Regions from separate parts of the Homo sapiens genome. Here region 1 is linked to region 2. The links come from fine-mapping of genetic effects on gene expression. A gene starts in region 2. The other region holds a variant in brackets. All regions are shown on one strand. Distances are between the middles of the regions. Region 1 overlaps GPNMB (glycoprotein nmb). Region 2 holds the start of NUP42 (nucleoporin 42).

Evidence for each region. PIP is the estimated chance that this variant, and not a neighbour inherited with it, causes the effect.
Region 1: its variant is fine-mapped to the expression of NUP42 in whole blood (TOPMed, PIP above 0.99).

The regions. Positions count from the first base shown.
Region 1 is chr7:23,256,701-23,262,084 of GRCh38, reverse strand. GPNMB (glycoprotein nmb) reads right to left here. Exons shown (of 11, transcript NM_002510.3): 4 at 5,020-5,193; 5 at 1,947-2,105; 6 at 1,312-1,629. Among named protein-coding and RNA genes, the nearest start is that of GPNMB, 13 kb to the right of the region's middle. RefSeq lists a silencer at 3,108-3,308. The variant G/A (reference allele first, on the strand shown) is at 2,702.
Region 2 is chr7:23,179,521-23,184,904 of GRCh38, reverse strand. NUP42 (nucleoporin 42) reads right to left here and starts at 2,857. Exons shown (of 7, transcript NM_007342.3): 1 at 2,699-2,857. The coding sequence starts at 2,819. RefSeq lists enhancers at 2,493-2,562, 2,663-3,262.

The DNA.
Region 1 (5,384 bases), 77 kb before region 2:
AGCCCCAGACGTCATGATGGACCGTCGTGGGCTTGGTCCCTGGCGCCCTCTTGTGACCAGTGAGAGGATGTCAGCCTATTGCTATCCCCAGGATCCTGGGGTGCTGAGTGCAACTGGCCCAGTGGGAAAAGGGTGGTGATGGCATGGGGTAGCGTGGGGAATCAGATGGAAGCCAGTGCTACCCAAAGTGGACTCTTAAGGACTTCTTGAATGTCCCCAGACTATTAATATAGGGTGGTATTGAATTAATCATGCCTTAAATGCAGCACAGTTTTATTTTTATTTATTTTTCTCTTTTTTTTAAATTTTACTTTAAGTTCTAGGGTACATGTGCACAAAGTGCAGGTTTGTTACATATGTATACATGTGCCATGTTGGTGTGCTGCACCCATTAACTCGTCATTTACAATAGGTATTTCTGTTAATGCCATCCCGCCTCCCTACCCCTACCCCCCGACAGGCCCTGGTGTGTGATGTTCCCCGCCCTGTGTCCAAGTGTTCTCATTGTTCAGTTCCCACCTGTGAATGAGAACATGCGGCGTTTGGTTTTCTGTCCTTGTGATAGTTTGCTCAGAATGATGGTTTCCAGCTTCATCCATGTTCCTACAAAGGACATGAACTCATCCTTTTTTATGACTGCATAGTATTCTATGGTGTATATGTGCCACATTTTCTTAATCCAGTCTATCATTGATGGACATTTGGGTTCATTCCAAGTCTTTGCTATTGTGAATAGTGCCGCAATAAACATACGATGCAGCACAATTTTAATGTCAGGAGTCACTGCAGCTTGCTAACCCAGACATACTCTCAAGCTACATTCTTTCTTGGACCATTTGGAAATTGCTTTCAAGTACAGCTGTGTTTTCATGGACACTGGGTAGGTGTGGGCAGGGTAGGGAAAGAAATTAGTGGGGGAGAGGAAGGAACATAGAAATGACCTGATCGTATAAGGAGCCAGTGTGCCTTCTCATAGCCATAAAAAATGGGAGATAAACAAAAATGTGACAGGTTAGAAGAGGGGAGAGTGTGTACACATAGCAGGGACCAGTGCAAATGAGGAGGGTCAAAGAACTTTCTACAAGTCACTGAATTCTATTTGCAAAGTGACTTTACATACATTCTTCCTTCTTCTGTGTTCTATAGGTGTAAAATGGTGATAACTTTGCTTTAAAAAATCAACAGGTAGAAAATGGAATCACCGCAGAGTCCTTACAATATCCCCTTAAGGAGGGATTTAATAATATGACCTGCGTGAATATTTTGTTAGCCATTAAGGAGCCTCCCTCAAAGATCACTGCGAAACCTTACCTAAAGAAGGGGTGGGTTTTGAAGGTCTGGGTGGTGGTGGCGGTGGCGGACAAGGTCCTGGTGCTGCAGCTTTCACAGTGAGGTTAAGGCTGAAGGTTCCATTGAGCACATACGTGTGATTCACAGTATGATTGGTGGAAACAAACAGGCCAGTATTATCCCCGAAGCTCCACTTGTAGTTAATGGTAGAATAATTGAGGAAGTGGCTAGGATCATGAATCAGGACATCAAACATAATGGGGAGATCTTTGAGGAAGGTTTCGTCGGATGAATTTCGATCGTTCTTCTGGAACATAGTCACAAACACAGGAATCTGATCTAAAAGATACATCCCCCAAAGAAATAAAGAATGCATGATTGCTTGATTGTAAGTGGAGGGCTTCGACGATGCTTTTAGGTTGAAATATTAAAATGAGGGATAATTTAGCATTATTTTCCTTTTCACATGCAAGTTTTCTGGGGTTTCCCTAAGCTATTCTGGAAAACAGATGAACTACAACTAATTAAATACACAAGCTTAGGTGGGCCAGATGCATTGTAACCTAACCCCGAACACTTGGCCTTACCTCTTTTTTAACCCATTGACGTCAACAGAATGAAGTGCCTCATCCTCAGTTAGAGTTCACACCACTCACCTGTTACCACGTACACATCTTTCACTTGTGCGATGGGAACATATGCCCGTCCATGTCTTCTGTAGACAGTCACTTCCATGAGTTGAGGCCCAAGTGTCACATTGGCTGTGTTCACAGAAACTCTCACTGAACATCGTCCCAATTTCTGGAAATACTGACCTTTGGGAGGATGGAAATTTTTAGTTATTGGCTGCATTATATCATCATTATAGGAAGCTGTTCCTTAAAGACTAGCTACCACCATTTATAGATTGCTCTGAGGAGGGAAAATAGGATGGGCCTGTGGTGCTGCTTCAGAAAGGGAGATGGTGCTCATTTTAATGTAAAATCTTATAAAACAAACCCACAGTTGTATACATGTAATTGTATACAGTTGGTTAAAATTTAAAAAGCTGTTTAGTGGCATAAAACAGTTAGCCCTTAGTTTACAAATAAATGCTGTTTGTGCTAAGTAATTTGGCACTTGAAATACATGTTTTCCCCATAGAAAATACATTTAATATAATGATGAGGTGTCCAGAAGAGTTAAAAAAATTATTTATCCAATAACCTACCTTATTTTTGTTACTATTTCCGCTATATTATTAAGTGGATTTTTAAAAGGGGACTGGAATCCTCCATCTCCTAATAGTATTTGTATATAAAAATACAGCAAGTGGCTGGGCGCGGTAGCTCATGCCTGTAATCCCAGCATTTTGGGAGGCCGAGGCAGGCGGATCACGAGGTCAGGAGATGGAGACCATCCTGGCCAACAT[G/A]GTGAAACTCCATCTCTACTAAAATACAAAAAATTAGCTAGGTGTGGTGGTACGAGCCTGTAATCCAAGCTACTCGGGAGGCTGAGGCAGACGAATTGGTTAAACCCGGAGCGGGGATTCCAGTGAGCTGAGATCACACCACTGCACTCCAGCCTGGTGACAGAGCGAGACTCTGTCTCAAAAAAATAAAAATAAAAATCCCGTAAGTGATGAAATAGAGGATGGCAGACATAAAACAGAATGGGGTGGTTCCACAGGCACTTTCCTAGGACACCCCTGAGTCATTCCTTTTCTTTGTCCAACCCTCCCTGCTGCTAGCTAACAGGTGGAAGTAATTCCTCTCCTTCAGGGCTCAAGGACATTTAAACAAATTTTAAAACTCTGTAACTCCTCTTACTATCATTCCCAAATCAAGAACTTTTCTAATCCTGCCAGGGGGCCTGGTTTAGACCTGTCACTGACTGGGTATCTTAGGTTGCATGCTTTTGAGACCGGGTTGTTTCAAGACCCCGTGTATCACACCGTCAAACGTGTGAGAAAAACACACTGGTCTCTCCAGGGATGTGTGGTTTGGAATCCTCCTTCACGTTGAGATGCAGGGGTAGTTCCATCAGAAGTTATAAGGGGAAGAGATGTCTCTCAGGGGTTATTCGTGAGGAAAATGTTAGTTTCAGCTCTGAGAGGTGAGACCATACTTAGTTGAGGGAGAATATCAGTTAACTCTGAGACCTCAGTGGAAGACAGAAATTCAAGGCAGTCTTGTTAGACAAACAGAGCAAGTTCTAGGCTGAAAGTTGATTTTAAATACAGACATTTGATCTGGTTAAGTTATTGGAATGTTTACTAGGCTAAAGAGTCGGCGAGTGTTAGTGAACATAAGTGACTCCATGCAAAATGTCAGAATTCTGTCATGAGAGTGACAAGTCAAAGAAATGTTTGGTGAGTTGGCTAATGGGGTCGTAATGGCAGTGAAAAATAAGTTAGCTTTAAGGCAATTGATTTATATAGATGAGCATAATATTTGACATAGCTTATACTCTGTTCAATGGGTATGTATTGTTAATATTTTGTCCTGATTTGTAAATAAGTTAATTGAAGGAAGAGGAGCTCTCTCTAATCTGTGATGAAAGATGAAATATTTAGTAATCTGGAGGCTGCTTGATTGGTAGCAATTTTCAAATACTCAGTGCCAGGTGGCACCTAGTGACATTTTAAACTAAGAATTTAGCAGCCTAATTAATAATAAGCTCAATTTGCTCCTTCTAAAAGTAATCATTTCCCCAATAATACAACAAAATGAATACCATTTGTAATTTAAAAAAAGACAGAATGGGCTAGGTCAAAGCGGAACAGTAGTTATTTTATTTGTACACAATGAAATATCGTGCAGCCATTAAAACAATGTATAAAAATTAAAAAAATCATATCATCAAATGCTAATGATAGTAAGCAAAAATGTGTATGTGATCTTAATAATGATCTTAAATACTAGCAAAGAAAACACCATAATAATTAACAATTATAATCTCTGGTATTAATTATGGATAATTTTTATTTTTTATTTGTACCTTTTCTGAGGATTTCCTACAAATAAATAGCACATGCTTCTTTAAATCTTAAAAATTCTTTAGAGAACATAAAAAAACTAAAGAATCAATCAATGAATGCTCATCAATGTGCCATTCTGTTTTTTGTTTGTTTGTTTGTTTTTCGAGATGGAGTCTCACTCTGTTGCCCAGGCTGGAGTGCAATGGCTCAATCTCCTCTCACTGCAACCTCCACCTCCCGGATTCAAGTGATTCTCCTGCCTCAGCCTCCTGAGTAGCTGGGATTACAGGTGCGCACCACCACACCTGGCTAATTTTTGTATTTTTAGTAGGGACGGGACTTCACCATGTTGGCCAGGCTGGTCTTGAACTCCTGACTTCAGGTGATCCACCCGCCTCCGCCTTCCAAGGTGCTGGGATTACAAGTGTGAGCCACATGCCCGGTCTCCATGTGCCATTCAAATAAATAAGTGTTAGCATTTTTTCTTGTTATGGTTTTAGGTAGAAAAAAATTAAGTGGTTTTGTTTTTTTGAAAAAGAGCTTAATCTTTTTGTTTTTCTCTCTTTTTAACTCTTCGGTGTCCTGGAGATTTGGCAAGGTTAACCAAGATTTCATTTTTATCTCTCACTGTTCACTCATGCTAAGGAAAGTTAGCAGGGTGACTGTTATTAACTCTCTGTGTTATCATTCTCAATTATAGAGTAAGAAAAGAGAAGGTTGAAATTTTAAGGAAAGGTAAAGAAGAAGCTTAGGGGTTTGTAAAAGCCAACCAAGTGTGTGGAAGACGTAGATGAAATTCCATCTTCTCCATCCGGGGTGGTGAGGAAAAGGTTTCCCATCAGGGAAGACGTTATGATGGCTTTGGCCGGTGCCATTTTCCCCGTCACTGTCCTCTGACCATGCTGTCCAGTTGTAAACATACGGATCAGCAGATAAACCAGCCTCTAAACAGAGATAGAAACCAGCCATGAGTGTTATCTAGGCTCAGAAAACCCAATGTGCATGCATCACTGAATTAAACACTTTTTCGTATTTTTTTCATAACTAGTTTAAAAGTAGTTAGACAACTAAACACTTAATATGTAGAATCCATCCAATAGTATGCTTATGACTTGTGCACTTTTCTGAATTTGTT
Region 2 (5,384 bases):
CCTCCTGAGTAGCTGGGACCACAGGCGCAAACCACCATGTCTGGCTAATTTTTGTACTTTTTGTAGAGATAAGGTCTTGCCATATTGCCCGGGGTTGGTCTCAAACTCCTGGGCTCAAGAGATCCACCTGCCTCAGCCTCCCAAAGTGCTGGAATTATAGGCATGAGCTACTGTGCCCAGCAACTGTTCTTTAAAATCTCAAAAATCTTCATTATATCTTAGTATGTCTAGACAATATAGAAAGATTCAACAAGCACTACATTTAAACTCATTTTAAATGACAATCTCTTCATTTTTTATTTATATACAGTAGTTAGGTTGTAATATCAACAAATCACATAGTGGCCAATTGCATTTTTGTTTGAGATTGAGAAGAAAATAATATAGAAAAATAGTGATATATTACTAAATTCAGCTGACAAAGCTTATTAAATGAACAACTGCTTGATAGTTAAAAGTTGACAGAAGGCATGCATCATAAATCATAAACTCCTTCAGGATAAAAACTTGGGTTTTTATCATTCTTTGCTCCCCCACCAGGCCCTATACTGTAGTAAAGGCTGAAAAATGGACATTGAATTAAAGTTTCTCGAATATGAAAGATTACATTCTACCCTCTGTTTTTGTACAGATGCTTAAGTCTATTTGACGCAGTCTTTTCTCTGGGCAAACACCTACACACCTATTTTCACAGAGAGATTATACATGGTATTTACATGTGTACAGAATGCATGTAGTTCCTCTACCAGCTTTCCAATATTTCATAAATATCAAAATGAGCCAAAAAGATTCTCTCCTCTCTTTATATATTGGTTTTGTTTTGTTTTTTAAAATCATTTTAGCAATCTCATTTACTCATCACTTCCTAGTTGGGGCCAAGATTAAGGTAATTCATCTTGTTTCTGACTGAATAAAGAGATAAGCCATTAATTATATTAAAAGTTAGAATGACACACATGCCCAGTTGTGAAAGTTCATCCTGCAACTCTAAACTACCCTAAAAAAAAAAAAAAAAAAAGTGGAGATTGCTAGACCAGATCCCTCAAGTAGAAGTTAATGGTATCTTCTTCTTCTAAAGTTCCAAATTCACTGGGGGATGATACAACTGAAGAAACTCACTTCCTCCTTTTTTTTTTTTTTTTTTTTTTTTACATTGCTTTTGGTCTTCATACTTATAATTCCAGAAACATTCATTTGTTTCTGGGAGCTAAATACAATTTGTCTGCCAAATTTTGTTTACACTCACATTCATCAGACATGAGTCCTAATTTTCGGTCTGAAATATTTCACTAGATTAATTGTGGAGGAAATAAAAGGACTGTCTTCCCTGAAGTGGGATCAGACGTGAAACCATCACGCAATACAAGGTTTAAAGGTTAGATGAGGCCCGCCGCGGTCGCTCACGCCTGTAATCCCAGCACTTTGAAAGACGGAAGCGGGAGTATCACCTTAGGTCACGAGTTCGAGACCGGTATGGCCAAAATGGCAAAACCCTGTCTCTACTAAAAATACAAAAATTATCAAGGGCATGGTGGCGGGCACCCGTAATCCCAGCTACTCGGGAGACTGAGGCATAAGAATCGCTTGAGCCTGGGAGGCGGAGGTCGCAGTGAGCCGCCTGACTGAGAGAGCAAGACTCCGTCTCAAAATAAAATAAAAAAATAAAGGTCAGATGAATAGCCCTAAAGGAGGGGAAGGAAGGGAGACAGCACCGAATTATTAACCCGATCTTTAAAAATCTTGTGTTGTTCTAAGGTTTCATGTCTAATCTCTCCTTTCCTTGAAGATAAAAAGCTTTGACAATGATCTAGGCCCAGGGACTAGATCAACGTGGCCCCCGCATCTCCTTTCCTCACCTCCCGGATAGCCCTTAACTGGGCGTCCCACATTCCCAATTTCACCCCAAATTTATGAGCAGGTGCATTTTTGCGGTATGGCTCTATAGGTTTTATTAGATTTTCTTTTTTTCTTTTCTTTCTTTCTTTTTTTTTTTTTGATAGTCTCGCTCTGTCGCCCAGGCTGGAGTGCAGTGGCACGATCTCGGCCCACTGCAACCTCCACCTCCCGGGTTCAAGCGATTCTCCTGTCTCAGCCTCATGAGTAGCTGGGATTACAGGCGCGCGCCACCACGCCCGGCTATTTTTTTTTTTTTTTTTTTTTTTGGTATTTTTAGTAAAGACGGTGTTTCACTATGTTGGTCAGGCTGGTCTCAAACTCCTGACCTCGTGATCCGCCCGCCTCGGCCTCCCAAAGTGCTGGGATTACAGGCGTGAGCCACCGCCCGGCCGGTTTTATTAGATTTTTTCAAAGAAGTCCACGACTTCTCCAAAATGAAGTCCTGATTCTGACCCAAGCTGCTAGCCTCACCCTCGAAAAAACAACTTAGTAAAAATTATATTCAATTCCGGCATTTACCTACAAGGTAGTTTCGATAGGTACTTCCGATTTAAAAACTCAGTTTCGCACAAGCATCCAGGCCCAAACCCAGGTCCTCAGAAGCTCAATAAAAACGGACCACATGAATAATATGTAGATAAAACCCTCGGTTTAAAAACGTTGTGCAGGGCCCAGTAGGGCCGGCAAGGCCGCGACGCGGGCACGTTGGGGTCACCAGCAGCGGGAAACACGCGGGACGCCCGGTCCCCGCCGGCGGACCCTTCCCGGCTCGGTTACCGCGGAGGATTCAGAGGAGAGTCACCTGAAGGCTGCTGCTGCGGTTGCTGCCGTCCTCCTCCTGCACCCCTAGCACCGGGATGTTCGTTCCAGCACCGATCTCCAAAGCGGCACCGGCCTTGAAGGAAGAATTGACAAATGGCCATTGCGACGGCGTCGCTGACGGAGGGCGTCTTCAGTCTGCACCGTTCGATGCCTGTTACTGGGCAGAGAGCCCTAAGGCAACCTCGGCGCCCGGCCGGGCTACTGTGACGTCATCTTCTCGCGCCTGGGAAGGCCTTTTTCCGCCTCTCACCCGGCAGTGCCATGAGACGCATGGACTTGAGCCAATAGGACTTGAGAAGAGCGGACCGCTCTGACGCTTTGAGTGTGTCCTGGGAAGGAGGGATGCTTGAACGGTTACGTGAAGACCGGAGGCGCGTTTGACCCCGGTGCAGGGCCTCGGACTACAGGAAGGCTGGAGGTCCAAAATGAGAGGAAAGCGGAGCAAGCAAACGCAGAACTTCAGCAAGGCCCTCAGAGGAGAATTAGCTATGATTTGAGAGACTGAGTCGTTCTTGCTGAGACGGTAAAACTTAGCTTGGGCTGAGAAAGTAACAAACTGCCTAGCCTTTCATCTGGATGGATAACAGAGTCAAATAAAGCCAGACGACGTTAAGAGGAAACAATGTTTCTTTTAGGACATGCTGCAACGGAAAAGTATTACCACTTAAGTACATTCTTACTACACACTGAGAAACCTTGTTATTTCTTCTTTTTTTTTTTTTTTTTTGAGACGGAGTCTCGCTCTGTCGCCCAGGCTGGAGTACAGTGGCAGAGCTTGGAGGCAAGCTCTGCCTCCAAGGTTCATGCCGTTCTCGTGCCTCAGCCTCCCGAGTAGCTGGGACTACAGGTGCCCGCCACCACGCCCGGCTAATTTTTTTGTATTTTTAGTAGACACGGTTTCACCGTGTTAGCCAGGATGGTCTCTATTTTCTGACCTCGTGATCCGCCCGCGTCCGCCTCCCAAAGTGCTGCGATTACAGGTGTGAGCCACCGCGTCTGGCCGAAACCTTGTTCTTTCAAGTCCACATAAACGTTGCTATTTGAAATTATATCAGAACGAGTGAAAAGTCCCATCCTTGCCTGGAGGATCTAAGTCTCTTTGACGCAGAGAAGCAGCCTCAATTTCTATCCAGGTGTAGAGCTTCAGATAAACGGTTCTGAAAACATTCTGTATTTTCTTAACTTTGCAGTTTCCAAGGAAACATGCCCTACATTCAATTCTCGTCCAGACCTGATGTTAATGCCTTTACACACAGCTATGCTTTGAGATTTCATTTAAATTTCACCTAAACTTCACTCTCCCCGCCAAAACATACAATAACTACCTTTTATTTTGTACGGTGAGACACACCACAGCTCCTCTGGTGTGCAGTCTTCTTGATTGCAATAAGTCAATAGATCTGACTTTGTTGGATTACAGGTTTGTGCTGGTGGTTTTAGGATTATTGAGCTGGGAGTGAGCCATCATTCTTGCTCATGTAATTTGTTTGGATTTTGAAGACAGCAGAATCTACAGGACGGGAACTACTTGTCCAAACTAGTTTTTTATTTTCTTTAATCAATGCAATTCATTTATTTTGAAACAAATTTATGGAAAAGTTACAAATAACAGTACAAAGAACTTTTTTCCTGAACCATTTGAGACTATGTTGCAGACCTAATGCCCCATGATCCAAATACTTATTGTATATTTTCTACAAACAAACCAGGGCATTCTACATAACCACAACACAGCCAACAAAATTAGGACATTGATACTGATGCACTACTACTCTCTAATCCTTAGACTCCATTTATGTTTTGCCAAATGTCCCAATATTGTCCTTTAGAGGAAAAGGGTTCAGTTCGGAATCATTGTTGCTTAGTCATATTTCTTGTGTCTCCTTCAATTTGGAAGATTTTTTGTTTTTCCTTTTCATGACCTTGACACTATTAAAGACTACAGGCTGCTTATACTGTAGAGGTTCCTTAGTGCAGGTCTGTTTGATGTTTTCTCTTGATTAGATTCAGATTATGCATCTTTGTCAGGATTATCACAGAAGTGATGCTGCGGTTTTCACATTGCAGGTTGTGCACAATTTCAATTTGTCCTGTTACCTGTAATGCTCAATGGATTACTTGCTTAAGGTGGTGTCTGCCAAGCTGCTCTACCATAAAGTTATTCTTTTCCTTTTTGTTATTAATAAGAATTTTGTGGGGAGGTACTTTGAAAGTATATAAAAATCTGATTGTTCATCCAACTTTTAGCTCATTCACTTATTTATTTATATCAGTATGGACTCATGATTTCCAATGTTATTCAATGGGTTATAATCCATTACTATCATTATTTATTTTGATGCTCAGATCATCTCCAATTTGGCCAATGGGACCCCCTTTAAGCTCCTTTACACATTCGAAAAAGGAGAAAAAAAAATTCCCCATGATTACTTGAGCACTTTTTTACTTTCTGGTGCAGAGATGTTCCAGGCTCATTTTTACATTCTCTACTCCAGTCCTGAAATCAGTTATTTCTCCAGGGGTCCTTTTGGTGCTGCTTAGAAACCAAGATCTGAGCTTTAATGTGCTTATTGCTACTGGGATGTCTTTGCTGTCATGAACATTGCTGGGAAATACATATGTATAAACAAACACGAACATTTACATCAAACATTTCTATATTTTAT